Regions from separate parts of the Homo sapiens genome. Here region 2 is linked to region 1. The links come from fine-mapping of genetic effects on gene expression. A gene starts in region 1. The other region holds a variant in brackets. All regions are shown on one strand. Distances are between the middles of the regions.

Region 1 (16,025 bases):
AGTTGAGTGATGACCTGGGGCCCAGACTCTGAATGACTATGTTCCATCTCTATGGGTCCCACACATGCTCAACCACTCAGATATCATCCCAGCATTACCTGGATGGATGCCCTTTTCCAAAAGGAATCCACAGGATTATTTTCACAGTCTTCTGATGTAGGGCAGGATTGGTAATCGAGTCCTAAGGGGTAAGTAGACAAACACATTTTATTCCAAAGATTATCTATCTCAGAGAAGAATTAACTTACAATATATCCCAGTTCCATGATGTATACTTAGCTTCCATTCTGTACAATGTGTACAAGTTTAACATCCACAGTTCTTCCCACTCAATCCACAAGGAGCCTGGTGAGGGACCACCTTGTCCATGATACTAAAGATGTTGGTCATTTTGCTCATCACAAATGTGAGGAAGGCAGAGAACTAAATAGCTGGCTAGTGAGTGAGTCTAGCTGACCACTGAGCATCAGTGTATTAGCTGGGTTATTTCTCAACAATGTTTAAAAACCCACAAACAACAACAACAAAAACCTTTGCTTTATTGGGAGAAGAGCCGTCTCCAAAAATTAAATTGTTAGCCATTATCTTAGTAGTAAATGCAAGGAAACAAAGGATTAAGAAAGTGATAATGCTTAGCCAGAAACAGAAATTTTATACAATTGAAAAATATATAAAATGTTAAAATGTATTACATTTTACAATGTTTAAGGACAGACTAAAGACCCTAGCAGATCAATGGGATGTGGGATGTACTTACCATATACTCTATAAAGAAAAAAAATTTCTAATCTACAAGTTGACCTCATATTCCTAGCAAAAACTGATATTAATGGCATTATTCATAATAGCCAAGATATGGAATCAATCTGTGTCCATCAACTGATTAATAGATAAAATAGACTGGGCACAGTGGCTCACGCCTGTAATCTCAGCATTTTAGGAAGCTGAGGCGGGTGGATTACCTGAGGTCAGGAGTTCAAGACCAGACTAGCCAACATGGTAAAACCCCATCTCTACTAAAAATACAAAAATTAGCCGGGTATGGTGGCACGCATCTGTAGTCCCAGCTACTCAGGAGGCTGAGGCAGGAGAATCGCTTGAACCTGGGGGGCGAATGCTGCAGTGAGCTGAGATCGTGCCACTGCACTCTGGCCTGGGTGACACACAGAGACTCCGTTTCAAAAAAAAAAAGAAAGAAAATATGGCATGTATGCATAATGCAATACTATTGAGCCATTTGCAACAACATGGATGAACCTGGAGGACATTATGTCAAGTGAAATAAGCCAGGTACAGGAAAACAAATATTGCATGATCTCACTTGAAAGTGGAATCTTCAAAAGCTGATCTCATAGAAGTTGGGGGTAGAATAGTGGCTACCAGAGGCTGGAGAGGGGAATGGATAAGGGAGATGGGAAGAGGTTGGTCAACAATATTACAGTTACATAGGAGGAATAAGTACTGGGGCTGTAATGCACAATAGAGTGGCCATAGCTAACAATAGTGTATTGTATATTTCAAAATAACTAGTAGAGAGGATTTTGAATGTCTCACCACAAAGAAATAGTAAATGTTTAAGATGATTGATATGCTAATTACCCTGATTTGATCATTACACAATGTATATATGTATAAAACATCACATTGTATGCCATAAATATATACAATTTTTTGAGTAAATCAAAAATAAAATTAAAATTAAAATTAAAAAAAGCACCAAGGCCAGGTACTGTGGCCTGTAATGCCAGTGCTTTGGGAGGCTGAGGCAGGAGGATTATTTGAAGTCAGGAGTTCAAGACCAGCCTGGGCAACATGGCAAGACCATGTGTCTACAAAAATAATTTTAAAAACAGCCTAGTGTGGTGGTGTGTGCCTGTAGTCCAGCTACTTAAGAGGCTGAGGCAAGAGGATCGCTTGAGCACAGGAGTTCAAGGCTGCAATGAGCTAGGATCACACCACTGCATTACAGCCCGGGTGGCAGAGTGAGACGCTGCCTCAAAAAATAATAATGATTTTAAAATATAAATAAATAAATAAATAAAATAAAAAAGAGCTGCTGTCAATGGTTTGGCTTTGCTATTTTCTTGACTTTTTTCTGTGTTTATTTACATAGATGTATTGTGTATATGTGTTTTTATTTGAATAGCCTCATACCAATCACAGGGTTATGTAAATTTATTTTTTGCTTAAAAACATGCCCCTTTCTGGGTCAATAAATAAAAAACCCCATCACCATTGCTGCTGGCCCCACAGGATTCCATGACATACACATATGGTTATTTAGCTGACCTGAACTGCTGGACTTCACTTCTTTCTGAAACAAAGAGCCCTGATAGGAGGGCATAGATAGAAAAGGGCAGCGAGGTGAAGAAGAAATAACTGGTGGTTTTCTGGAAGGCTCTCCCTTTCTTTATGTGTTTTTCATCACATTCCTCCCCTCCTTCTCCCCACCCTCTGCAGCATCATCAAACAAAAGCTTCCTGGAAGTTCTCCATTGAAAGAATGGCTGTGTCCATTTGACGTGGAACCTGCAATGCTGCCCATCTCACTCACAGTGAAAAGCAGAGGCCTCACAACATCCTGTGCCACCTGGCCCTCCTTTATTCCTCTAGCCTCATAGCTCACACTTTCCTCTTTGCCCACTGTCCTCTTTGCTGTTAAATATGTCACACACGCTCCCACCTCAGGGCCTTTGCAATTGCTGTTCTCCCATCAGAAAATGCTCTTTCTCATCTCCTTCAGGTCCTTGTTCAAATATCAGCTTATCAGTGAGGTTTTCCCTCGGCATCTAGGTAAAAATGCAACACTTTCCTTTCCCTGGCCCTCCACCCTCAATCTTTTTTGTCCTTATTACCTGTTTTAATTTTCTCCATAGCCCTTATAATCTTAAGGCAGTCTGTATATTTCACTTGCCTGTTTATTGTCTTATCTGCCCTCCTATAATGTAAGCATGGGGTATTAATTTCATGTTTTATTCTCTGCTGTTTTCCTACTGTCTAGAAGATGAGGGTCTGGCACATAGTAGACACTATAAATTTTAGTTTGATGGACAAATGAATGGAGGAGAAATAAACAGAACTGATATTAGGTTAACTCTTTTTTTTGTGTGTGCCGAGTCTCACTCTGTCATCCAGGCTGGAGTGCAGTGGTATGATCTCGCCTCAGTGCAACCTCCTTCTCCAGGGTTCGAGGGATTCTCCTGCCTCAGCCTCCCGAGTAGCTGTGATTACAGGCATGCACCACCATACCTGGCTAATTTTTTTGTATTTTTAGTAGAGTTTGGATTTCTTCATGTTGGCCAGGCTAATCTCGAACTCGTGACCTCAAATGATCCACCCACCTCGGCCTCCCAAAGTGCTAGGATTACAAGCGTGAGCTACCATGCCCGGCCTGATATTAGGTTAACTTTTGAAGTAACTCTGATACCCAGGAAGGATCTCCAGTCTTCATAATGGAAACACTCCCTAACCTCCTTTCCTTGCTAGCCTCCCTTCTGAAGCTTCCCTGATGATCTGGTGGAGGCTGGTGTCTCACTCTGCTACTCCTCGAACACCATTTTTCCTGCATTATAGCCCATATCACTCGAGCTGATATCCCCCATGAGGCTATAACCTCCCTGAAGATGGGGACTGCTGTGTCTCCAGCTCCTAGCACCACAGTTGGATGAATGAGGAGTGTTTGCAGAACATTCAGGCCAGCTCTTGTGACTCTAACTTTCCTTGTGACTTGGATCTCGAAATATCTGCCGGCGGCCTGGAGTGGTGTTACAGAGCACAGGCTTCAGAATCCATCAGGACAGGACTGAGACCCAGCCTTACCACTTCCAGTCATTTAACCTCCCTAAGCCTCAGCTTCCCCCTCTGGACAAATGAGGATAGTAAGGCAGAGTTGTGCAAAGTTGAGAAAATGGGCTCTGGAGTCAGACTGTCTGCTGCTTACTAGCTATGCCCCCTGAGCAGATTTCTTAATCTTGCTGTGCCTCAGTTTCCTCATTTATCAAAATGGGGATTATGATAGGATCCCATGAGGTTGTTGTGGGCATCAAATGAGTATGTGTGTATATATAGATATAGATATGTATAGATATGTATATATATGTGTATATATATGTGTATATATATATATATATATAGAGAGAGAGAGAGAGAGAGAGTGCTTAGACTGGCACCTGCAAAGTTAAGTATTCTCTAGTATTGTTATTATTAACTATTCTTGCCACTTATCTCAGAGGACTTGGAGAGGATCAAGTGAAATAAATGCATATGAAAGCATTTAGCACAAATGGTAATGCATAGTAAATAGGAGTTCTTAAGTCTCCTGTGATTTGTGCAGGAGTCTTACCAGAGTCATTTTTCTGTCGACACCAGCTCAAGAAATCTGCAACCCTGCCATACAGAACATCGCTCAGGGGCATAAAACGACGGGTGTTGTCTGCAAAGCTGTTAACAAGGAGGTGGCTATTTTCCCAGAACAGGGACTAAGGAAAGACAAACAAAACATCAAAATACAAAACAGAATCAAAACCGACTCCTCAGGCACAATATCATCAAGGCAAGTTGGGCAATCCAGTTCTCATTCAACTCTGACCTGCTGCACAACAACTGAACGTTCTTTTTCGTTGTCTTTATTTATTCATTCAAAGACTGCTAGCATCTCTCCTCCCTTTATTCCCAGGGTATCATGCAAATGTTAATGGAATATTTTCTCACTAGTACTAAATATACGTGCATGTGGTAAGATCCCCTACATTAAAAATGATCAAGGGAACTGGGCTGGAATCCTGGCTCTGTCATGTATTAGATATGTAATCTTGAGCAAGGCATGCAATCTCCCTGTTTCTCAGTTTCTACTTCTGGAAAATGCAGAGCATGAGCCCTTTCTCTTCTTCCAGAGCTGTGGCCAGGATAATAAGCAGTCACAAAAAGCACTTCCTAAAGTGTCAAGTGCCTCAAAAACACATTGCTTTTATATTATACTTTATAGTTTCCACCATAGTGTTTTTATATAACAATAACACAAATCCCCCAGTCACTATTTCATCTGACCCTCAGTAGTCCAATCAGTTTATATTTAGACTAGAAGGTCCCCAAGGGTGAGGGCTGTTTTTCACTGTTACATCCTTAACCCTTAGCACCAATGACTGGCAAACAAATAGCCCCGGAAGTATTTACTGAGTTCATCAACTAGCACCGAATCTATGAAACAGAAGGTTAAAAAGTCAGCTTCCCCACTTTTAGTGACAGGAGGGCAGCAAGGTTCAAAAGACAGCATATACTCAAAAATCATGTTTTCAGTCTATTCTATCTTTGAACCTCACAGTTCCATTTACTTGCCTTTACAAATAACACACAATGGAAAAAATCAGGTTAACAATGTTTATGTCACAGAAACAAAAATGGTGTCTAGCATTCCTTAAACTTGAGGTATTGTTTTAAGCAAGGGTTTTATGGAAATTTTCTCATTATTTTCATTTTATTAGACCTGAGAGTGTATACAGAATATAGATATGTGGTTTTCTTAAATAAACTGGTACTAAATAAATATAATCTTAAGACCCGTTAAATGGAGAGACTGGTCTCCCGGGAGGATACTGAGATTGAGAGTTTTCTGAATTACTCAAGGTTCAGGCCATTGGGCCAGTTAGGATGAAGGTTATTTAGAACTGGCCAGATGTGGAGGCCCAGTGTGACAGGTATGGCCATGTCCTGATGTCCTCATGTTGATTCTCACACTAACTTGCTAACTTAGGAAATTTTCTTCTGCCCACAACCAGCGGGAGATCTACAATCACTATTGGAAACTGATATGATTTGGATTTGTGTCTCTTGTAAAATTGTAATCCCCTATGTTGGAGGTGGGGCCTGGTGTGAGGTGATTGGATTATGGGGGTGGATTTCCCCCTTTGCTGCTGTTCTCCTGAGGGAGTTCTCAGAAGATCCAGTTGTTTACAAGCCTGTGGCACCTCCCTCTGCCCTTGGTCCTGCTCGTGCCATGTAAGACACCTGCTCCCACTTTGCCTTCTGCTGAAGTAAAAGCTCCCAGAGGCCTCCCAGAAGTAGATGTTGCCATTCTTCCTGTACAGCCTGTGGAACTGTGAACCAGTTAAACCTCTTTTCTTTGTAAATTACCCAGTCTCAGGCATTTCTTTATAGCAATGTGACAACGGACTAATACAGAAACAAAGCTAGCTTCCCACAGAGAGCTCAGCACACACATTATGTGTGCTGCCTGATGTTTCTGTGACATTGCAGGATGCAGGGGACAGCTAATGTCAACCTGGCCCATGCACCATCCATTTCTGTAGAGACAGAGAACACAGTTTTACCCAAGATGGTTGTGGTGTTACCTTATCTCTGGGAATAGAGTGCCTGGACAAGTTAATAAAAAGGTCATAGTCTGAGGGCAGCACGGAGCAGGGATCCTTGTCCAGCGCCACTTTAAAGGCTTCCCAGATGGCTGTGCAGTTCTTGTTCCTGTGCAAAAGTACAAGTTGGGAAGAACACACACATGCACATCATAATGTGTTGTGAAGTATGCCCATTTGTCTAAGAGCTTTACAAGAGATTTTTCATATAGTAACTGCAGAAGTAGGCTTACAAAAAAGACAACGAATTGTCATGGCTTAGGTGACAGATTCAGAAATCTGACACTGGAATTGTCTCTCTGAAGGCACTGCACAGATTTCTCAGAGCTAAGGAATACAGCCTTGCCCCAGGCTCACGGAGACAAGCAGAAATGGCACCGAGCAGGAGGTGACAAATTCAGTCAACTATACAGCAGGTGCCTCTTCATTTAGACCTAACGGTGGGGCCAGTCTCATAGTCCAGTTCCAGTGTGGAGCTCGGGGACCAGGTGAGGCCAGGCCAGCCAGCAGGATGTGTAGTGTTAGGAGGGAGGCCCAATGCTGCAAAAGGCTTCCACCTCTGGCAAAGCAGGTGCACCCTCCAGTGCAAGCCCCTCTTGAGGTCCATGCTAGTTTTCAAAAAATATTTCCCATAGCATTTGTAACTTTGTTTCTCATACTGGGTGGTGTGTAACACAGGTGGTTCTCTGCTGTTTCTTATTTGCCTGAAATGTGCGACAATAAAAATGATCAGCACAAGAAAGACATCACAAACATAAGAAAAGGGGGGCCACAGAAGGAACAAAAATCAGTAAGAAATGCAGCACTGGCAAGAAAGACCCAAACTTCAGAAATCCTCCAGATTTAGGGGATCTGAAATTTGAATTCTGGAAGGACTGGACTCAAGGAATTCCAACCTGAGATCACATTCTGGGTTCTGAGTATTCAGACTAAACATCTGCTGGGTGGCAATGGGCTGTTACCCAGTTCACCTCTACCCCACCCTCACTTCTAGAGGGATACCTCTCCACCCTCCTTCACACTCACACACACCTCTCACCTCTAGACCACACACACATCCCTCACCTCTAGACCACACACACATCCCTCACCTATAGACCACACACACACACCTGTCACCTCTAGACTACACACACACACCCCTCACCTCTAGAACAAACACACACACATCTCACCTCTAGAACACACACACAACTCACCTCTAGAACACACACACACACACATCCCTTACCTCTAGAACACACACACCTCTCACTTCTAGAACACACACACCCATCATCTCTAGAACACACACATCTCACCTCTAGAACACACACCCCTCAACTCCAGAACACACACACACCCCTCACCTCTAGAACACACATACACACCTCATCTCTAGAACACACACTCTCCTCAGCTCTAGAATACACATACACCCCCTCACCTCTAGAACACACACACCCCTCACCTCTAGACCACACACACATCCCTCACCTCTAGACCACACACACATCCCTCACCTATAGACCACACACACACACCTGTCACCTCTAGACTACACACACACACCCCTCACCTCTAGAACACAGATACACACACACCTCTAGAACACATGCACGCACCCCTCACCTCTAGAACACACACACACACATCTCACCTCCAGAACACACACACCCCTCACTTCTAGAACACACACACCCCTCACCTCTAGAATACACACACCCCTCACCTCTAGAGCGCACGCACACACACCCCCTTCACCTCTAGAACACACATGCACACACCCCTCACCTCTAGAACACACATACAGACACCTCACCTCTGGAACACACACACCCCTTACCTCTAGAACACACACACACATCTCACCTTTAGAACACACACACACACCCCTCACCTCTAGAGCACACACACACACACACACCCCCACCTCTAGAGCACACACACACACATCCACCTCTAGAGCACACACACACCTCCCACCTCTAGAGCGCGCGCACACACACACCCCCCTCACCTCTAGAACACACGCACACACCCCTCACCTCTACAGTGTGTGTGTGCGCGCACACACACACACTCATCTCTAGACCCCGCACAGCGCACCCCTCACCTGCAGACACACTTCACAGCCCCCTCCTCACTCGCCCCCATCGTTCAGGACCATCGCTGTCTCCACACTCACCTCTCCCCTCAAGGCCTCTCTCATTGCCCCCTCACCCCGAACTTTAGCGCCAGTTTTCCCCTCCCCAGGCCCTCCCCACCGTTGCCTCTTTCCGGCTCCCCTTCCACCCGGCCGACTGCCTCACCGCTGCTCGGGACTCAGCAGTGCGCGGTACTCGGCGCAGCGGCCCAGGAAGATGTCCCGCAAGTGTGCGCTGGTGCCCTCCCCGCGCCACCGCGCGCGCGCCCCGCCCGCCGCCAGCAGCAACAGTAGAAGCAGAAGCTGCAGCAGCAGCTGGAGCAGCCGCGATGCCGCGCACCCCTGGGCCGCCATCGGGGAACTTTGGTCCCTCCAGTCCCGTGCTTCCTCCACTCCCCTTCTCTCCTTCTACCAAGGCGGTTCCGCAAACTGATGCAGGGCGGGACTCTCGCTCGGATATCTCGCTGTTTGCCGTTTCCCGTTCCAGACAATTTCAAGACTGAGCGTGGGGCGGGGCGCGGCGGCTCATGCCTGTAATCCCAGCACTTTGAGAGGCCTAGACGGGCGGATCGCTTGAGTATAGGAGTTCGAGACAAACCTGAGTAACATACAGGTGAGAAACCTCCTCTCTACAAAAAAATACAAAACTTAGCTGGTCCTGGTGGTGCGCATCTGTAGTCTCAGCTACCTGCGAGGTGAGATGTGAGGAGGCTTGACCCCAGGGGATCGAGGCTGCAGCGAGCAGTGATTGCACCACTGCACTCCAGCCCTGGGCGACAGAGTGAGACTCTGTCTAAAAAAAAAATTAATAAATAAATAAAATTAAAAAAGAGTGAGCTTGGAACATCACCCAGGACAGGACCAGTGCACTGTGGCCCAGGCTAATCTTGACCGCTGTCCACGGGGAGGGAGCCCCAAAGAAGCCGCAAGGTTGAAGGAGAGGTGAGGAGAGGTCAGTCATCATCAGAAGAAATACTTTTCTGGCTCCAAAGGACGACAACTTTGACAGATGCCCTCTTTCACACCAACCAATAAGTGGTGTTTGTTTGTTTTCAGGAAATAATAACCACAACAACGTGCCAAGCACTTTGCAAGTATAATATTAATTACTTTCCGCAACACCCTTCCTAGCTAAGTTTGTAATTTCTCTCGCTTTAGCAATGGATAAACTCAGGGAAGTTAAGCATGTTCGGCCCTCCAGATTTGCGGATTCATCATCCAAATTCAGCTAACCACGGATGAGAAACATTTGAGGAAAAAAAGAATGCTTGCATCTGTACGGAACATGTACGGACTTTTTTTTCCTTGTCATCATTCCCTAAATAATCCAATGTAACAACTACTTATGTAACAATTACATAGTACTTGATATTACAAGGAATCTGGAGATGACGTGAATTATAGAAGAGGATGTGCAAATACTGTATACTACACCATTTAATATAAGGGCCTTGAGCATCTGTGGATTTTGGTATCCAGGAGGTTCCTGGAACCAATTCTCCATGGATACCTACCGCCGACTGTAACTTGTCAGAGGTCACAATATCCCTTCCTGATAGATGCAAAATCCTGGAGATGTTCAGTTTAAGAGAGCCAGGATTGGCCGGGCGCGGTGGCTCACACCTGTAATCCCAGCACTTTGGGAGGCCGAGGCGGGTGGATCACGAGGTCAAGAGATCGAGACCATCCTTGCTAACACGGTGAAACCCCGTCTCTACTAAAAATACAAAAGATTAGCCAGGCGCGGTGGCGGGCGCCTGTTGTCCCAGCTACTCGGGAGGCTGAGGCGGGAAAACGGCGTGAACCCAGGAGGCAGAGCTCGCAGTGAGCCGAGATCGGGCCACTGCACTCCAGTCTGGGCAACAGAGTGAGACTCCGTCTCAAAAAAAAAAAAAAAAAGAGCCAGTATTAATAGAATACCACGTGGAGGCCCAAGTCCTCAATTCTTACAATAATGACAGCAATGAACTTTGAGTGCCTGGCAAGCACTTGATAAACACAAGGGAGGACAGAACAGGTGTTCTCTACTGTTTTATTTGAATCTCTTTTTTTCTGTAACCAAAACCCGCATTCTCCTGTTCAGTTCCTCCTTAAGTTAAATCCACTTTCCAGAGGAAAGCATTTTTAATTCTTTCAAGTTTTGTTCCTGTGTTTACTTCCATATTTCTAAATAACATGTGTGAACCCGCAAATTTTGAGACAGGTCTCAATTAATTTAGAAAGTTTATTTTAGCAAGGTTGAGGACACGTGTCCATGACACAACCTCAGGAAGTCCTGACGACATGTACCCAAGGTGGTCAGGGCACAGCTTGGTTTTATACATTTTAGGGAGACATGAGATATCAATCAATATATGTAAGAAGTACATTGGTTCTGTCCAGAGAGGCGGGGACAACTCGAAGCACGGAGGGGGCTTCCAGGTCTCAGGTAGGTGAGAGACAAATGGTTGCCTTCTTTTGAGTTTCTGATAAGCCTTTCCAAAGAAGGCCATCAGAATATGCATATATCTCAGTGAGCAGCTGAATGACTTTGAATAGAATGGGAGGCAAGTTTGCCCTGAGCAGTTCCCAGCCTGACTTTTCCCTTTAGTTTAGTAATTTTGGGGCATCCCTGGCATGGCTCGTCCCACCAAATCTAATGTGAAATTGTAATCCCCAACGTTGGAGGTGGGGCCTGGTGGGAGGTGATTTTATCATGGGTGTGGGTTTCTCAAGAATAGTCTAGCACCATCCCCTTGTTGCTATTCTCATGATAGTAAGTGAGATCTGGTTGTTTTAAACTGTGTAGCACTGGCAGGGCGCCGTGGCTCACACCTGTAATCACAGCAGTTTGGGAGGCTGGTGTGGGGGGTGTGTTGGGAATCACGGATCGAGACCATCCTGGCCAACATGGTGAAACCCCATCTATACTAAAAATACAAAAATTAGCTGGGCGTGGTGGCACGCACCTGTAGTCCCAGCTCTTCGGGAGGCTGAGGCAGAAGAATCGCTTGAACCTGGGAGGCGGAGGTTGCAGTGAGCTGAGATCTCACCACTGCACTCCAGCCTGGTGACAGAGTGAGACTCTGTCTCAAAAAAAAAAAAAAAAGAAGTGTGTAGCACCTCCTCCCTCTCTCTTGCTCCCTGCTGCCACCGTGTAAGACCCATTGCTCCCCCTTTGCCTTCCACCACATTTGGAAACTTCCTGAAGCCTCTCCAGATGCAGAAGCCACTATGCTTCCTACAGCCTGCAGAACTGTGAGCCAATTCAACCTCTTTTTCTTATAAATGAGCAGTTTCAGGTATCTATAGCAATGCAAGAACAGACTAATACAATACCTATATGCTATTTCTTGATGTTTCTGTTTGGGACATTATTCTGTTTGGGACATTATGACATTTTATTTGTTGTAAACCTCTTGTTTACCCTGGAGGTAATCATTATCTAGAAAGTAACTAGCTTGCTTTTGATATTACAGGCTCATAGGCAGAAGGCATTTGCCTTGTCTCAGATGAAACTTTGAACTGTGGACTTTTGGGCTAATGTTGAAGTTAAGACTTTGAGGGTCTGTTGAGAAGGCATGATTGGTTTTGAAATGTGAGGATGTGAGATTTGGAGGGGCCGGGGTGGAATGATATGGTTTGGCTGTGTCCCCACCCAAATCTCAACTTGAATTGTATCTCCCAGAATTCCCACGTGTTGTGGGAGAGAGCTAGGTTGGGGTGGGGGTGGGGAGGCAGGGTGGGAGTAATTGAATCATGGGGGCCGGTCTTTCCCATGCTATTCTGGTATTCTGGTGATAGTGAATAAGTCTCACAAGATCTGATGGGTTTATCAGGTGTTTCCACTTTTGCTTCTTCCTCATTTTTCTCTTGCCGCTGCCATGTAAGAAGTGCCTTTCACCTCATGCCATGATTCTGAGGCCTCCCCAGCCATGCAGAACTGTAAGTCCAATTAACCCTCTTTCTGTTCCCAGTTTCAGGTGTGTCTTTATGAGCAGCATGAAAACGAACTAATACAACTAGATCTCACATCCTCCTCTTTCTTGTTTTATGGAGCACATCTTCCAATAGCTTCTTGAGAAGATACACAGGGACTAAACTTTCTGAGATTTTTTGCATAAGAATTCAAAATGTCATTATTCTACCTTCACACTTAATTGAGAATTTGATTGGATGTCTGAGATTTTTGCATAAGAATTCAAAGTGTCATTATTCTAACCTCACACTTGATTGAGAATTTGGTTGGGTACATTTTTGCATTGGAAAGCATTTCCCTTCAAAATTTTGAAGACTGTGTTCCATTGTTTTCTGTGTTGCTGTTGAGAAATCTGAACCCATTTTCCTATTCCTGTTTATTTGACCTTTTTTGTTGTTGTTTGTTTTGTTTTTTATTCTTTGGCCTGTTTTTTTTCTATCTGGAAATTTTCAGAATTTCCTTCTATTCTTAGGAGTATGAAATTTCAGAGATGAAGTTGGGCAAAAGTAGTTGTTTTTCATTGTACTGGACAATCCATGAGCCCTTTTAACCTACAAACTCATGTCTTTAAATACTGAGATATTTTCTCAATTTTTTGGTAATTTCCCCTCCTCCAAATTCTGTTTTCTCTTTCTGAAATTCCTGTTACTCATATAGGAATGATTTCCTTGTTAGACTTCCTAGTCTTTAATTTTCTATATTTTCACCTTTTTTCTTTGTCTTCTTATACTTTCTTGAATATAAATTTATCATTATCTTCCAACTTCTCTGTTGCTTTTTTAAATTTATACTATATATATATATATATATATATATATATATATATACTTATATATACAGTTGTGTTCTACACGTTCAGGTCTTTTTGCTTTTTATAATCTTCTCTTGCTGTTTTGTGAATATTTCTGAGGCTTTTATTACAGATGTAGGTTTTTCATTTTTCTTTTAAATTTTCTTCTGCCAATGTCTGTTTCCTTTGAGTGCCTTATTTCCATTTTGGTGACTGGCTTTAATGTGAGAAGTTTCCCTCAAATAAACTGATGACCTTTGGCTGATTATTTTTACAAACACAGAAAAACATAAGGAACAGTATTAGTTCATTGTCGCACTGCAGATAAAGACATACCTGAGACTGGGTAATTTGGCAGAAGGCAACAGGCACGTCTTACATGGCAGTAGGCAAGAGACAGCTTGTGCAGGGGAACTCCTCTTTATAAAACCATCAGATCTTGTGAAACTTATTCACTATTATGAGAATGGGAAAGACCCACCCCCATGATTCAATTACCTCCCACCGAGTCCCTCATATGACATGAGGGAATTGTGGGAACTACAATTCAAGATGAGATTTGGTTGGGGACGCAGCCATACCATATCAGGCACTAATTAGAAGCAGGCTCAAGGCAAATGGTCAGAGTTTGTCAAAGGGTGGGCTGCCCTGTAGGATGAACATACTGCACTTTATCACTAAGAGATACCTGTCATTTTCTCTTGGACAGTCCGTTTTTCCAGAGAGTAATATTCCTTTTTTTTTTTTTTTTTTTTTTTTTGAGACAGAGTCTCGCTCTGTTGCCCAGGCTGGAGTGTAGTGGCGTGATCTCGGCTCACTGCAAGCCCTGCCTCCTGGATTCATGCCATTCTCCCGCCTCAGCCTCCCAAGTAGCTGGGACTACAGGCGCCCACCACCACACCTGGCTAATTTTTTTTGTATTTTTAGTAGAGACGGGGATTCACCATGTTAGCCAGGATGGTCTTGATCTCCCGATCTCGTGATCCACCCGCCTCAGCCTCCCAAAGTGCTGGGATTACAGGCGTGAGCCACTGTGCCTGGCCTAATATTCCTATTTTCTACCTGGAAGGATATATGCCTGGATGATAGCAATGTGGAGCTGAGTGGGGGAAGGTGGCTGGGAGAATCTCACTATTCAGTATAAAGATTTTCACTTATCCCTCCTCTCTCACCACATTTTTAGTAGAAGCTCTGGCCTCACTGATGCCTGGTACCCCACAACCTAGAATCTTTGGTCTACTCTTCAGGAAATATGTTGCTGCACAGGATTAGGGAGGGCATTCTTGGACTTCCAACTACTTTTTTGACTTCCAGCCCTACATCCACTCCCACTTTCATGTTAGTGACAGACCTTTCTTCCAATTCCTCTTCCTTTTGAGGGTTCATGACATCAAACAACTTTCTTCACAGCTTACATTCTCTTTCCCCACTAGCCAACTGAGGTTTCAGCCTTCACTGGCCAACTAAATTGTTACCCCTTCCTCATTTTCTTTCCACCATCCCAAATTCTGTTCCTGACAACTCCTCTTCTTTTCTCTTTTCCCTCATGGTTTACTCCTTTTTCATTTTGTTTATATTCATCTTATTCATTGTCATGGGGGATGAGTTTGTTTTGAGGGAAGAAGTCTTTCATACCTCACAAACCCTCAAAACATGACTTTATCTTGATGTGTGAGGCAACAGGAAATACACAGCACCACTTCTGAAGTATCCATGCATCTGTCTGTCTATCTATCTATCTATCTAATCTGAATCTAGCAAACTTTCAGATTTAACTACAGTTTTCAGGAAATATAGAGGATAGAGGGACATGTTAAATGATACCACAGGCAGTCATGCACTGAAACCGGCTGACAATATTTGACAGGTATATTTTCAAAAATGTATCAAAAATCTGGGAGCCATTTGTTAAACACAGTCATATTAAAAATTAAATTATATAAACTTACAATAAAATAAATTATATTAAAAGCAGGCCGGGCACAGTGGCTCACGCCTGTAATCCCAGCACTTTGGGAGGCCGAGGCGGGTGGATCATGAGGTCAGGAGTTCGAGACCATCCTAGCTAACATGGTGAAACCCCATCTCTACTAAAAATACAAAACATTAGCTGGGCGTGGTGGCGGGTGCCTTTGGTCCCAGCTACTTGGAAGGCTGAGACAGGAGAATGGTGTGAACCTGGGAGGTGGAGCTTGCAGTGAGCTGAGATTGCGCCACTGCAATCTCAGCCTGGGCTACAAAGCCAGATTCCGTCTCAAAAAAATAAATAAAAGCAAAGGTAATAAACATCCAAAATACATAACTTCTTAATTATTTTACTACATGTTGCTATTATTTATGCTCTTGGGGATATTTATATCTATTTTATTTTGGGTCTACGTACCAAAAGCCAAAAACCAAATTTATATATTGACATTCATCAAAGCTAAGAAATTCTGCTCTTCAAAAAACACCACTAAGAAAATGAGCAATCCACAAATTGGGATGTACTTGCAATACATGTATCTGACAAAGGCATGTATGTAAAAAACAGGGTTGTCCAATCTTGTGGCTTCCCTGGGCCACATTGGAATAACCCACACATAAAAAACACTAACACTAACATAAGACTAACACTAACTTCAGCCACACATAAAAAGCACTAGCATTAGCTGATGAGCTTAAAAAAAAAAAAGAAAAAGTTCTGTGTGTTACATGTAGTTAGACAGGCATGAGTGCAGCAGGAGAGGGCTCTTCCCCCACCCACTAGGAATGTCGGGTGTTGGTTTGGCACTTATTACATTGCCTC
Region 2 (16,025 bases), 30 kb before region 1:
GGCGTTATGCACCAACCATATTATGCATCTGGAGATTCCCAGAGCAGCAACTGGGACAGGGACTACTGAATCCCTCAGACTTTAGGCCATAAGCCAATGAACATTTACTGTAAAAGGTGAGATAATACTTTTCGCTTTGCGGGCCATGCAACCTCTGTTGCCACTGCTCAACTCTGCAATAGCTCAGAAGCGGAATAGATAAGCACAAACTAATGAGCATGGCTGAGTTCCAGTAAAACTTTATACACTAAAATTTGAGCTTCATGTAGTTTTCAGACGCCATGAAATAATGTTCTTCTTTTGATTTTTTTCAACCATTTAAAAATGGAAAACCCACGTGTGTCTTTGGGGTTGTACAAAAGCCAGAATGGGCCCCTGCTATGGGCCATTGACACATGCTCTCAATAAGGCTGTGAATTAGAGGTTTCCCTGCACACAATGTTGTAAGCCCCTTGGAGGTTTGGAGATTCCAGCATCTATGACTGATTTTTCATGAAGGTTATTGAGGATGTGAACAGAATGTTTCAGTACTTTCCCCATCCATCTGCCTCAGCTTTCCTCTTCCTACCCTTCCTCCCTTATCAGGAAGCACTTCTATAATAATAGGATTGCTAGGAGCACAGAATTCTCGGGCCATGTTTTACTCCTGGACAAGGTTACTCTACTCCAAGTATGGTGTCCTCCCTGGCCTGTCCACTCTAGCTGTAGACAGGGATGGCCCCTAGAGGGAAGCCTGCCAATCCAGCTGTTACATAATGACAGCTGATCTCCAATCTGTGATTCTACTTGTCTGTAGCAGCCCCGTTTGACAACTTTGTTGGAGGAGGAGTGAGTAACGGCCAAATTCAATCTTTTGTCGCTAGATATAATACCAAAAAAACTGTCACTGCTCTTCCCAAGACTCCTAATCAATATCATCAGTAAATATTGGCTGAGTAAATATATGCAACCTCTGTCACAACTACTCAACTCTGCGGTTCATGACGGATAATGAACCCTGTGGACCCCTCACGAACCACGGAGTTGAGTAGTTGCGACAGAGGTTGCATGGCCAGCAAAGCTAAAAGTATTACTTCACCTTTTACAGAAAATGTTCATTGGCCTATGGCCTAAAATCTGAGGGATTCAGTAGTCCCCGTCCCAGTTGCTGCACTGGGAATCTCCAGACGGATAGTTTGGCTTGTAAATAATGCTCCAGCCTCTGTTGCTGCTCCTTCTTCACCAACATATAAGAAATAAAATTACATTTTATTTTAATATCCTCAGCTCTGCTGTCAAATATTTGTTATAATTTAACAAATTAATAAATTTGTTAAATAAGGTGCAAATGCTGAAGACAAACTCAGTAGTTGAGAACATAAACCTTTGTATAGATTAGTCTCCCTACCTGAAAATATTTCCAATCCACCCCCTCACACCTTCACCTCTCATCTGGCTAATAGCTCTCGTTTTTTCAGGTTCAACTTAAGGAAGACTTTCTCTGGAAAGCCTCCTCTCCCGATACTAGACTATGTTAGGTTTCCCCCAGTGCACAATCCCAAAGGACTCTGTTTCATCTTCATCCCACAAATGAAAGTAGATAATAACTACTAATTTAGGCCCGACATGGTGGCTCATGCCTATAATCCTAGCACTTTGGGAACCCAAGGCGGGCAGATCACTGTGGTTAGAAGTTTGAGACCAGCCTGGTCAACATGGCAAAACCCCGTCTCTAGCAAAAAGAATACAAAAAATTAGCCAGGCATAGTGGCGTGTGCCTGTAGTCCCAGCTGCTAGGGAGGCCGAGGCATGAGAATCACTTGAACCTGGGAGGCAGACGTTGCAGTGAGACGAGACGGTGCCACTGCACTCCAGCCTCGGTGACAGAACGAGATTCAGTCCCCCCTGCCCCCAACTAATTTAGTTATCAGCCAGTGAGGATCAGGAGATACACTCTCTCCCTGTCTCTCTCTATCCTTATCTCTCTCTCTCTCCCTTCTTCCCTCTCTTTCTCTGTCTCTCTCTGTTTCTCTGTCTGTCTGTCTCTCTCTCTGTCAATGTCTCCCTCTCCTTTTCTCTCTCTCACCGACTTCCCTCCCTCCCTTTCTCCTTCCCCCTCCTACCACCAAATTTTATTACTAGCAGCAATGGTGAACAATGACTTCACTCTGATTATATTTCTGTACACATCTTTTTACCCTACAAAATTTAATCGAGTTTAATGTGTTCCCCTGAGAGCTTGTCACTGTATGTTAACTATTTTAAAATTTTACAAGCACCATCTTAGAGTTACTGTGTCACATGTCCTATAGCAAAGTCATGAAGGTGCAGCTGGCACAAGTCAAATGAAAACCCTTCTACTTTTGTGCAGGGGAGAAATACACACACACACACACACACACACACACACACACACACACGGTTTGGCTTCTTAACATGCATTTTTCTCAAATAAGTAAGTCATTTCAGTGAAGAGTTTGGGTAATTCTGACAGCTACCCTTTAATAGCTACATGATAAAAGAAGTTCCAAAGAACCAAATCACGTAACAAAGAATACATGTGCTTTAGAGAACCTGCTGCATTCTACATCTTTTAGGGGGAAAAACAAAACTATATTCCTAAAATTCTAAGCGGAGTGATTTAATACATATACGTTTCATATTGAAACATGTTTTAAAGAGACTACCAAGAAAACACAAATACATAAGACTTCAAGTAATGAGTAATTATGGTGAAATTAGCATAGTTCAGATTTTCCAACCTGCTTCATTGGTTATGCATGTGGGTGTTTGAAACCCTTGCCAGGTCTTTAAAAACAAGCTCCCAGTCTCAGCAATAGCTGTGCCCTGTTCTCCAGCATGGGCTTTCAATTTGCCCTTCTCTTTGGTGCCAAAAGTCTCCTGAGAAGAGTAAGGCTGAGTTCTGGGTTTCAAATGCCTGTGAATTAAGTTCTAGCAACTGCAGAGTCTCCAATGATGATTCATTGTCCTGAGTTCCACTTTCTCACCCTGGGAAACTTCAGAAAGACTGAAATGGAAATGAGCATTAGGAGCTAGGTCCGCTTGCCTGGGCTGTCTCTCAGGTTAGTGGAACTGGGATTACTTCTCAATCAGCCATGTTCATTTGGCACCTTTGGCAAACCTCAATTTTCACAGCAGGAGAAATAAAAAAAGCTAGTGTTCACTTGGCACATGCCTGCTTCTAGTCTTTACTTTGGAAATTTTCATTGTTGTGTTAGCTTACCAGGGTGGCCATAACGAACTATGAATTTGAGGGAACACAGTTCCGTCTGTAACAATCGTGTGGAAGCTGAACTTCAAACAGGTAAGCTATCAGCTGGCTAACGTGTGGTCATTCCCACTTCCCATCAAGGTTTTTTATTTTTATTTTTATTTTTTTATCAAACTCTCTTGCCTTCCAACATATATTTTTAAATCAAACAATATTTAGGAATGTTTTTAGGATCTTTTTCTCCTTTTATACTGACCAACATCATAGACTCCTCACCCTGTTTAACATCTTTGTATTCTCCGGTCTTTGTGAATGTCCCTCTGCTACCTTACTAGACACACCAGACTGACCGACTCTCTTATCAAAGAATGACTTATAGACGTCATTATTCTTTTTCCCAAGTGTCTGAAATTCCTTTTCAAATTAGGCTTTCATTTTTTTGAATAGGCTTTAATGTTTAGAGCAGTTTTAGGTTCACAGCAAATTTGAGCAGAAAGTACAGAGCTTCCCACATACGCTCTGTCCCCACACATACATAGCCTCCCCCACTGGCAGCATCCCCACCAGAGTGGTGGAGTGGTGCATTTGTCACAACTAATGAACCGACATTGAAACATCATGGTCACCCAGCCTCTGTAGTTTACCTGAGGGTTCACCCTTGGTGTTGTACCTTCTGTAGGTTTGGACACATATATAATCACCTGTATCCACAATTCTAGTATCATGCAGAGTATTTTCACCACCCTAAATATTTGGGAGTCCATTTTATCCTGTTTCCTCTGAAGCTTGTGGAGAGCATTCATGTGGACGGAGCTGGACTAGGCAGGCATGCAATTGACTCAACTCTTGCCAGAGCCTCTGGAGATTTCGGCTTCCTTGCTGTGGGAGTGGAAGGCATTTACATCTTTGGACTCTCTGACAGTCAGTATCTTCCCCATCATGGTTCCCACAGTTTCCTGTTCAGGTTCAGAAAGTACCTTGTTACCAAGTCTATCGTGCTAGAGGGAATACAGCCAAGTGTAAGGTACCTGGTACCTACGACAGGAGAGGAAAGAGAACTCAGTTCTTCATGTGCCCACCCAGTCCTTGTGCTCAGGGGTCTTCCATGTGCATTTCTCTTTTGGTCAAATGCTTAGCATTGTTCATTCACTTGGTAGAAGAGCATTAAGTACCCATTAAGTGTGCCAGGCATGGAGCTGGTGCTGGGACCTGTTTGTTGAAGACACACGAGGCTGGTTTTCTTAGCTGCTTTTGCCAGGGCTCCCTGCTGCCCCCTTGCTGCCCAGACCATGGAGGAACCGAGGCCAAGAGAGGTGACCTTGGCCAAGTAAGAAAAGCTTTCTATGTCTATGTTTTCTCATCTGTAAAATAGGATAATAAGAGAATTGATCCTATGGGGTCGAGTGAGGATTGAAAGGGGCCATTTATGAAAATACTTCACACAGTGCCCAGTGCACAGTAACTTCTGATCTGCAGAGAGTGCTGTATTGCAGATGGTGTTTAGACAGCTATCAAACAACTCTAGTAGTAGTAACAATAACACTAGCAAATAACACTTATACAGGGCTGATCTACTATACTCCTGGCACTGTTCTGGGTTCTTTATGCACATTCGCTCATTGAATTATGAGTACTTATAATCCCTACTTACACACACGGTGATGCAGCTCAGGTAAGGTAAGTGAGTTGCCCAAGGCTACACAGCGAGCAAGTGCTGAAGGTAGGATGTGGGCCAACCTGTTAGGTGCCAGAGTCCATGCTCTTGGCCACAATGTTAGGCTGCCTCCCCATTTCCTTTGTCTTGATTCCCCAAACCCAAGGTTCTCACCCAATCTGATCAAATGCTGACTAGGTCATGGCTGGTCAGGGTAAAGCATTATGACAGACACAAAGACAAAGAGGTAAAGTTGCTGTCCTCAAGAGAGAGAGACATAAAAACAAATGGATCTGGAACTAAGTAAGGCTTCGAGGAGGAGGTGAGCAAAGGTACCAGATCCAAAGGCTTATGTTGAGAATACGGAACTGAGAGAAGGTTCATGGAGAGTGCAGTGGGGTCTCCTGGGACACAGACCTAGTAAGGCAGTTTAGGGGCAAATGGAAAGATCTTGAATCGCAGATTTTTTTTTTTTTTTGGAGACAGAGTCTCACTCTATCACCCAGGCTGGAGTGCAGTGGAGCAATCTAGGCTCACTGCAACCTCTGTGTCCTTGGTTCAAGCAGTTCTCCTGCCTCAACCTTCAGAGTACCTGGGATTACAGGCACGTGCCACCACGCCCAGCTAATTTTTGTATTTTTAGTACATACAGGGTTTCACCATGTTGTCCAGGGCTCCTGACCTCAAGTGATCTGCCCACCTTGGCCTCACAAAGTGCTGGAATTATAGGCAGGAGCCACTGCGCCCGGCTTCTTGAAGAGCAGATTTTAAAATTTGAAATTTGTCTTGCCAAGGGTAGGAAACCATTGCTGATTTTGAGCAAGAGGACGATGCACTCAGGACCCTAGCGTAGGACATTGCTCTGGCAGCATTGTGGAAGTTAGGCTGAAGGAGAAACCAAGCAGAAGCAGAGAGATCAGTCAGGAGGCAATGATATGTTTGAAACCCATGATTTACCTTGTACAAAGGCTAGAACCGGCGGTTGTATGGTTCTGCTCTGGGTCGCACTCCTAATGTCCCACATAGCCTCTTGGGTCTATAAATATAAATATGTGCATAAAAACACATAGAAAAATGTCTGCTACTCTGCGTGCAGTATGACAGATGAGATTTGCCTTCTTCCTAATTTTTCTGTATTGTGTAGATTTTTTTCAAGTAAAGAGCCATTATTACTCTTATATTCGGGAAAAAAGTGAAGTTATGTTTAGTTTTTAAAAATAAAGCCTTATTTTTCTTATGGAACTCAAAATGGCATTTCTCTAATTGAGTCGCAGGTCACTGTGCTGTGAGTGGCTAAGTCGCCTGGTAACCCAGGCAACATGAAGGCAGCAGACACTGTGTTTTCCAAGCTTGGTCTAAGAGACGCCCCTTGGCTGGGGCTCCCATGGGATTGGCCTAAGGAGCCAGACGGTCCTGAGACAAACCATGAATTATGAATTGGAAGTTGGTTGGTTGGGTCCTTTTCTCTTTCTCTAAGTACCCAAAAGTCTTATGCTGCTTGTCATCTTCCCTCACGGCTCCCCTCACACACCCTAGCAATATCACACACTTCAAGTGTTTTATGAAAGTATGCCATAAATACAGAAAAGCATGCCACACCTTGTTATTAAGCTTCCCTTGTACCCTCCCTGGCCTCCTCCAACAAAAGAAAGCTAAAGAATCCCCCACCCTCTGTTTTCCTCTATTAAACTTAGTTCATTCACACGTGGAAGGTCTACTTCATCCAAGCAGGGCTAGGCTAGGGCTGCAAAGATGAGTGAGTCTGCAAAGAAGCCACAGTCCCAGGGTGAAGTTAGGCAAGGACCCAAACAATGCTGACACCATGAAGATGGGCCCTGTTAGGGAATTCTTTGCTTTTTTGCAGGGAGAGAGGTCAACAGAAGGATCCAGGGAGGAGGTGATGCTTAAGGTATGTCTTAGAGTCTGCCAGATGGGAGACAGGGCAGGAAGGAAAATCAACACAGAGAGACCAACATGTTCAAAGACCCTGAGGAGGGAGAGAGTAGAGAGCACGTCTGGGTAGAGCACCAAGCAACTTGGTTAGAGGAGCCCAGCTGAGCACACCTTCTGTAAGAAGCTAATACCGCTTTTACAATACACACCAGTGTCTACACCAAATGAACATTCTACCATGCCAGGTTTTCATGGATTTCATTCCTCTGCAGTCTCACTTCCCAAAGTCTCTTTCCTTAACCCTTCTGAGCGTGGCCTGGTTCCCGCTCCTGCCTGCTCCCTGTGGCAGTGTCCGACTGAAACCAGCCCAGCTGTCCCAGAGAAGTGATGTCTACTGTTTTTTGGATAAACATGAAAATTGACCCTCTCATCTAAGATTGAAACTTACATTTGTCTTATCTGAATTCCTTCTTCAGGAAACTGACCCTTAGGCAACCAGTTAGTATCAAGGAACCGAAACTCACCAGACCACCACATCCACACAATTAGATGCCAGACCCTTCATCCATCATGACTCCTGTTTAGCAGCTTCTCTTCCTTACCCCTCCCCCATTCCTGTTTTCTCACATATAGTTACATTTCCTTCCTGCTATGTAAACCCCTAAGTTTAGTCGACTGGTGGAGGAGACAATTTTGAGAATGATTTCCCGTATATATATTATATTTTAATATATTAAATTTGTATCATACTTTAGACATTTTCATCATATAATTAAGTTTTATATTTTATCTCTTACACATTTTCCTATGTGATTAAATGTTCTTTGAAAACATTTCTTTTTGGTTTACATAAAATAAAATTTACTCTTTTTCATGTACAGGGCCATGAGTGTTGACGAACACTTGGATTCATGCAATCACCACCACAATCAAGACACAGAGCAGCTCCATCGCTCCCAAAATTTTTCTCAGTGTCACTTTGCAGTCAGCGCCTCCTTCTAGTCCTGATCATTCTCAACCCCCACAATCACTGGTCTGCTCTCCGCTACTATAGTTCTGCCTTCTCGAGGATGTCATATAAATAGAATCATACAGTTGGTGGCCTTTTGGTGCGGCAGCTCTCACATTTGGGTTTCATCCATATTGCTGCATATATCAAGGTAGTTACCTTTATTGCTGAGTAGTATTCCATGGTGTAGATTTACCAGTTAGTTTATTCCTTCACCATCTGAAGGACATGTGAATTGGTAAACATGGCTTTTACTTGTTGAATGATACTCCATTCTACAAATATTCTAAAACCCATGTAAATAGTTCTGATATGGTTTGGCTCTGTATCCCCACCTAAATTTCATATTGAATTGTGATCCCCAGTGTTGAAGGTGGGGTCTGGTGGGAGGTGATTGGATCACGGAGGTGGTTTCGGATGGTTTAGCACCATCACCTAGTGCTGTCTCATGACAGAGTTCTCACGAGATCTGGTGGTTTGAAAGCATGTAGCACCTCCCCCTTCACTCCCTTCCTCCTTCTCTGGCCATGTAAGACATGACTGCTTCCCTTTTGCCTTCCATGATGATCGTAAGTTTCCTGAGGCCTCCCCAGCCATGCTTCCTGTAAGCCTGTGGAACAGAGAGGTGAAGCCAGCTGGACTTCCTAGGTCGAGAGGGGACTTGGAGAGCTTTTCTGTCTAGCTAAAGGATTGTAAATGCACC[G/A]ATCAGCACTCTGTGTCTAGCTAAAGGATTGTAAATGCACCAGTCAGCACTCTGTAAAAACACACCAGTCAGCACTCTGTGTCCAGCTAAAGGATTGTAAACGCACCAATCAGCACTCTGTGTCTAGCTAAAGGATTGTAAATGCACCAGTCAGCACTCTGTAAAAACACACCAGTCAGCACTCTGTGTCCGGCTAAAGGATAGTAAACACACCAATCAGCACTCTGTGTCTAGCTAAAGGATTGTAAATGCATCAATCAGCACTCTGTAAAATGGACCAATCAGCGCTCTGTAAAATGGACCAATCAGCAGGATGTGGGTGGGACCAAATAAGGGAATAAAAGCTGGCCACCGAGCCAGCAGTGGCAACCAGCTTGGGTCCCCTTCCACATTGTGGAAGCTTTGTTTTTTCGCTCTTCACAATAAATCTTGCTGCTGCTCACTCTTTGGGTCCGCACTACCTTTAATAGCTGTAACACTTGCCGCGAAGGTCCGCAGCTTCATTCTTGAAGTCAGCGAGACCACGAACCCACCAGAAGGAAGAAACTCCAGACACATCTGAAGGAACAAACTCTGAACACACCATCTTTAAGAGCTGTAACACTCACTGCAAAAGTCCATGGCTTCATTCTTGAAGTCAGCAAGACCAAAAACCCAGAGGTTGTCACAATTTTGTCACAATTCTGGACACAGAACTGTGAGTCAATTAAACCTCTTTTTTATTTTTATTTTTGTAAATTACCCAGTCTCGGGCAGTTCTTTATAGCAATGCAAGAACAAACTAATACAAGTTCCAAACAGTTTCAGTAAATATGTAAATATTACTGGATATTTTGGGTTTTTCCCTCATTATAAGTAACTATTATGGCTGGATGTGGTGGCTCACGCCTGTAATCCTAGCACTTTGGGAGGCTGAGGTGGGTGGATCACCTGAGGTCAGGAATTCGAGACTAGCCTGGCCAACATGGTGAAACCCCATCTCTACTAAAAATACAAAAATTAGCTGGACATGGTGGCAGGCACCTGCAATCCCAGCTACTTGGGAGGCTGAGGCAGGAGAATCGCTTGAATCCTGGAAGCAGAGGTTGCAGTGAGCTGAGATCTCCCCACCTCACTCCAGCCTGGGCAAAGGAGCGAAACTCTGTCTCTCAAAACAAAAAGGAACCATTAACTGAACATCTTTATACCAAATAAATGAAAAATGAAAACTTTGCAGACCATATATGCATACATTTATATAGTATACATATGTCTTAAGCAATCAACAAGCATGCAGTGTCCGTGCTGCTGGAGATATAGGAAAATATAGATGATGTAAAATACAGCTTTATTAGAATTCTCTTAAAATGTTTGATAATATACAAGCAGTCTGACTCCCAATGCTTTGTGTCATTATACAAATAAGAAAATAACTTGCTTTAATTCTAATGCAGCATTTTTTAACCTGCTAAATAGAACTAACTTCTTGTTTCTGAAATCCTGAACATATGCCTCATTGAAATACCATTTTCAGGACATCGTTTTCCCAGCAAAAAGCTTCTTTAGATAACAGAATCATTTGGTATACACAGAACACGAATGATGACTGCAAGGGGAGGCTGCAGGGCTGGAGGAGGGTTAGAGCAACACAGTTTCCAGTTACAGTTGAGTCCTGGAAGCCAGCACCAGAAAGAGGGGAATGATAAGACCCGCCCTTTGTTCTGTATAAAGACTTGGGGCTTTTCTTTGAGTAGCGGCTGCTGCCCTGCAAATTAACAAGGAAATAGAGAAAGTGTCAGTATTGGTGTATGGAATCTACGCTCAAAAATATATGTGCAGTATTAGTCTCTTTTCTGGTTAGCGCGGAGCGAGAAGCCATGAGCAGCAAAGTCTCCCGTGACACCCCGTAGGAGGCGGTGCGCGAAGTCCTGCACCGAAACCAGCGCAAGCACCCCAAGTTTCTGGAGATGGTGGAGTTGCAGATCAGCTTCAAGAACTATGACTCCCCAGAAGGACAAGCGCTTCTCGGGCACCGTCAGGCTTAAGTCCACTCCCTGCCCCAAGTTCTCCATGTGTGTCCTGGGTAACCAGCAGCACCGTGACAAGGCCAAGCCTGTGGATTTCCACCACATGGAAAACGAGGTACTGAAAAAACTCAACAAGAATAAGAAACTGGTCAAGAAACTGGCCAAGAGTATGATGCATTTTTGGCCTCAGAGTCTCTGATCAAGCAGATCCCACGAATCCTCGGCCCAGTCCTAAATAAGGCAGGAAATTGCCCCTCCCTGCTCACACACAAGGAAAACATGGTGGCCAAAGTGGATGAGATGAAGTCCGTAATCAATTTCCACATGAAGAAGGTGTTATGTCTGGCTGTGGCTGTTGGCCACGTGAAAAGGACAGACAATGAGCTTGTGTGTAACAGTCACCTGCCTGTCAACTTCTTGGTGACATTGCTCAAGAAAAACTGGCAGAAAAACTGGCAGAATGTCCGGGCCTTATATATCGAGAGCACCATAGGCAAGCCCCAGTGCCTATATTAAGGCACATTTGAATAAATTCTACTGCTACCAGTATAAAAAAAAAAAAAGCAAATTGTGCACACTGTGGAGAAATGTACATAGTATATAGGAAGTTATAAAGTGGAAAGTAAAAGTCTCTTAGTCTCCCCATTTGCACTTTCCATAGAAAACCAACTTTGATAGTTTGAGTTCTCTTTCCAGGAATGCAATGAACACATGCATGCTGAACCTGCTCAATATAACTAATTCCTATTTCTGCAATCCTGAGCACACACGTCATTGAAATACCATCTCAAGACATTCTTTCCTGAGCAAAAAGCTTCTCTAGACAACAGGACCTGCTGCTGCCCTGCAAATTATCCTTAGATGTCTTTAGATATCCTTTTATCTAAGCACAAATGGAATCTGCAACGTGCGTTCTTCACCTAACATCATATTTTGAACATGCTTCCATATTGGTACACAGGGAGTTAACTCATTCTTCCTTGTGGATGAATTCTTATTGTACGGATGGAACACAGTGTTAGCCAGGTTTCCTACTGATGGCTATTACATGATCAGAGTTTAAGTGGTGAAGAAAAACCTGTCCTGACATGAAGACATCAACAGAGGGCCTGCCCAAAATATGGACCCTATTCATAGTAAACAGTATCTGGCCACTGGGTTTGTAAAAACAGAAATTACTGAATTCTTTTAAACCAACTAAAAGATGAATTTTAAAATTATGAAACCATCTAATGTTGGCTTGGAAATATATCCCATGGCTCTGGACTAGTGGCCCTGTCCTTAAAAGTTCCTGACTCCATTTGAATGCTGGTCCTCTCTTTTTTGCTAAAGAAATCTGACCCACAGGTTTGTATTAGTGCTCCACCTACCGGACATTTTCTACAATTGCACCTGTGATGCAGTTAATGTCCCAGACTCGATTCACTCAAAATTTAAAATTACTTTTGCTTTCAAATAATTAACTAATTAACATAAGGTTACATTTTTCTTTACTTTTTTAAAAAATAAAATAACACATAATTAGATACACTAATAATGACAGCCTCCCTTCATCTTTTTCCAGTTTCTATTCCTTTGCCTAGAAGGAACCCACAGTTAGGTGCTTGGAGTTTACTTTCTCAGACCTATTTCTATCACTTACATCCATTATCATGCACAAATAGAAACATGCTGTTTTGCTTTCTTCTGGTTTACATGTCTCGGTTCATGTTCTGTGCATTGGTTTCTCACTTTGTAGCTTAAAAACCTTTTCTTGTCAATGTGAGACTATACTTGAGGGGGTAACTGCACTATTTGCAGTTACTTTGATTTTTAAAATTGATTCTTGTTATTACATTTATATACTCAAAAGCCTAATTTTCCCATGCCCTTTTATTTAATTTATAAATCACATTGTTCTATTTAAAAACCTGGTGAACTCTGACAATAACTCTTAAGGATTTGTCACACTTACTTAATTCCTGTGATGTTTTAAACTCAAGTTATTTCAGGTTAAGTTATTATTATTATTATTATTCTTTGAGACAGGGTCTCATTCTGTCACCCAGGCTGGAGTGCAGTGGCATGACTACAGCTCGTTGAAGCATTGACCTTCCCGGGTTTAGAGAATCCTCCTGCCTCAGACTCCTGAGTAGCTGGGACCATAGGTGCACACCAACATACCCAGCCAATTTTTTGTTTGTTTGCTTGTAGAGGCGGGGTCTCGCCATGTTGCCTAGGCTGGTCTTGAATGCCTGGGTTCAAGTGATCCTCCCGCACTGAACTCCCAAAGTGCTACGGTTACAGGCATGAGCCACTGGGCAAGGCTTCAGGTTATTTTCAACTTAAATATTAAAATATTACATCTTTTTTAAAAAATATTTTAAATGACTTTAAATTAGCAAAACTTTCTCAATTACTTGATTGTAGTAAACCTAATAAATGTATAAAATTTAATCTTAATTCTTTTACAAATTCCAATACTGGTTCAAAACTTAGTAAAATTCTCTTATAACTTCCTACTAAAAATCCCAAGCCTAAAATCAGTTACTTGGCTGAGCATGGTGGTTCACACCTATAATCCCAGCACTTTGGGAGGCCAAGGCAGAAGGATCACCTGAAGTCAGGAGTTTGAGACCAGCCTGGCCAACATGGTAAAACTTCATCTCCACTAAAAATACAAAAATCAGCCAGGCGTGGTAGCTCACACCTGTGGGCCCAGCTACTTGGCAGGCTGAGGCAGGAGAATCACTTGAGCCCAGGAGGTGGAGGCTGCAGTGATGAGCCAAGATCAAGCCACTGAACTCTAGCCTGGGTGACAGAGCAAGACTCCATCAAAAAAAAAAAAAAAAAAAGGAAGGAAGGAAGGGAAAAGAAAATTTTCCAGTAGTGCTGGCTTGCTCCTGTAGTCTCAGCCACTTGAAAGGATGAGGCAGGAGGATCACTTGAACCCAGGAGGTTGAGGTTACAATATGCCATGATCACACCACTGCACTCCATGCCTGGGTGACAGAGCGATAACCTGTCTCCAAAAAAAAAAAAAAAAAAAGAAAAAGAATTAGTTACTTAATAGTAACCCATATACTGGCATCACAGGTTTAATCCAACAGCTGTTCTTATATGCTACATTCTCTAAAATATTGCCAATAATTAAATACCAAAACATACAGATTGTCCCTAAATTTACCACAAAACTATTAATAAAATGGGTGGATTTACATCAACAGTTGTTTATTTCATTTGAAACCTTTGCAGATTAAAAGCCCTTTACCCCACTATTCCTAAACAAGTAGAGATGAGTAGTCCTGTCTCTGTGGCCTGGGGCATTTAGGATAGAGCCTTCCAGCTAAGTTAAAAGATCTGATGTTTGCCTTTGGCCCTTAGTGCCACACTGAGTCCTCATTCCAGTACTATATGTCTGTTTTCTCATATCATCACCAATCCTGCAGATTAAAAGTCTACTGAATTTTTGGCCAATATTATAACCTATAAGCGCTAAGGTTGGTTTTTTCCCCTTGGATTATTCATGGGGTCTTCTGCTTGCTGTATGATTATCCTACCATTGTCTTTAAGGGCTATATTCTACTCCCTCCAGTAAGTGTACCCTTTGATGTAACTGTTTACTTGTCAGTGGATATTTGAGTCCAGTTCCCAGTATTTCAGTATTATAAAGAATGCTCTGGAGAACATATTTGAGCATATAGGCTGTATGTGCATTTCAAATCACTTGTTTGGAATAGGGCACCAAAAGTACCCTAAAGTGTGACCTAGGTCAAAGACTGTGATATTTTTCTAATTCTTGACACATATTGTCAAATTGTTTTCCCAAAGCACTTTATCAATTTACAGTGACATCAAGCATTGAATAACATCTCTAAAACATTTTTCTGCTATGTTTTAATGTATGCCAAGAAAGTTTAGGTGAAAATGACACCTTGTTGAATTTGTTTTCCATTATTATTAGAGTGATTAAATAATTTTGTATATTTGCTATTTGTGGTTTCTCTTTTGTAAATTATCTATGACTATTCACAGCTAGAATGTTTAAAAAATAGATTAGAAAAATTCCTGCCAGGGTGATGAAAGTTGGTGAAAAACTTGGCAGAGTGAAAGAGAGTTTTATCCTTGACATTCAAAGGAATCAGCCAGAATTGTCAAAAATGTCTACCAACAGTCACTGAAAGAATGCCCACACACAGGGAAGAACAGGTCAGGAACTGCAAACCCCTTACTTACCTGCTGTGGTGTGAGACCCAGAGACATTTTAAGGCAGTGTGGTGTGGTAGGAAGAATGAGAACTTTACACACAGACAAATCTCCGTTTTGCTTCGGCCTCTGAGTAACATTAAATGATCACTTAATCCTTCTGAACCTCAGCATCATTGATGACAATCAAACTGTCTTCCTTCTAGGAATGTGGTTGGAGTAAAATGAGATGATGACTCCAGAGTGCCAGCTGGAAGCCTGACACTGCAAAGTGCTCAGAAATACTGAGGAAAACTCGGGAGGCTGAAGCAGGGGAATTGCTTGAACCCGGGAGGCGGAGGGTGCAGTGAGCCGAGATCACGCCACTGCACTCCAGCCTGGGCAACAGAGCGAGACTCCATCTCAAAAAAAAAAAAAAAAAAATACCGAGGAAAAGTGAGAAGAGCTACCCTCGTTCTCCTTATTCTTCCTGCAGCAGGGGAGCTAACCCAAGGCACTGGTGCTAGGATGGCACCATTTGCCCATTTCAGGAATGGTGGTGTAGGGTGCAGTGGGTTTTACAACAAGGAATTTTACATGGTCTGTTTCTGTATAGGTTGACAGTCTGATTAATGAGACAAAGAGTAAAACCATACAAACCTAAGTAATTCTAACACCACAGACACTTCCCTATCCAAGACTTATGAGGTTCCAGGCTCCTTAGAAAGTCTATACCACTAATCTTTGCAACAACTTTATTCCCCCTTTTCCACATAAGTGAGCCACACAAGGATTCTTTTTCTTGCAATCAAAATGTAGACCTTATGCATATGCAGCCTCTGGGCACTTCTCTGAAGGTGTTGTAGAGCATTTGTCATTCCTTCTGGCTGCCCAGCACCTTTGAACATCGTTCTTCTTAAATCTATGCCTTTCCAGGGTAGAATCCAACCATTCATTCGTTCATTCATCTATTCATCCATTCATTCATTCCTAAGTGTCTACCGAGTTGCAAGTTCTGTTTTAGGTCCTTAGAATACCATCATCAGTGAAAAAAACAGGTCAAAGTCCCTGACCTCCTGGAGCTCATGTTCTGACAGGTGGGAGGCGCTAAAGAATGAATTTGCCAGCATGGGCAATATAGTGAGACCTCATCTCTACAAAAAAAAAAAAAAAAAAACTTTAAAAGTTAGCTGGCGTAGTGGTAAGTGCCTGTATCCCCAGCTGTTTGGGAGGCTGAGGTGGGAGGATCACGTGAGCCCAGGAGGTCAAACCTGCAGTGAGCCGTGATTGTGCCACTGCACTACAGCCTGGGTGACAGAGAGAGGAGAGAGACCTCGTCTCAAAAAAAAAAAAAAAAAAAAAAAAAGACCGCACTTCACAAGTAG

Evidence for each region. PIP is the estimated chance that this variant, and not a neighbour inherited with it, causes the effect.
Region 2: its variant is fine-mapped to the expression of BST1 in whole blood (TOPMed, PIP above 0.99).

The regions. Positions count from the first base shown.
Region 1 is chr4:15,695,963-15,711,987 of GRCh38, reverse strand. BST1 (bone marrow stromal cell antigen 1) reads right to left here and starts at 8,923. Exons shown (of 9, transcript NM_004334.3): 1 at 8,656-8,923; 2 at 6,347-6,473; 3 at 4,342-4,477; 4 at 99-181. The coding sequence starts at 8,843. RefSeq lists a silencer at 8,905-8,984.
Region 2 is chr4:15,725,929-15,741,953 of GRCh38, reverse strand. BST1 (bone marrow stromal cell antigen 1) reads right to left here. Exons shown (of 9, transcript NM_004334.3): 9 at 9,167-10,214. The coding sequence ends at 10,109. It also overlaps the pseudogene RPL10AP7. Among named protein-coding and RNA genes, the nearest start is that of BST1, 31 kb to the right of the region's middle. The variant G/A (reference allele first, on the strand shown) is at 8,471.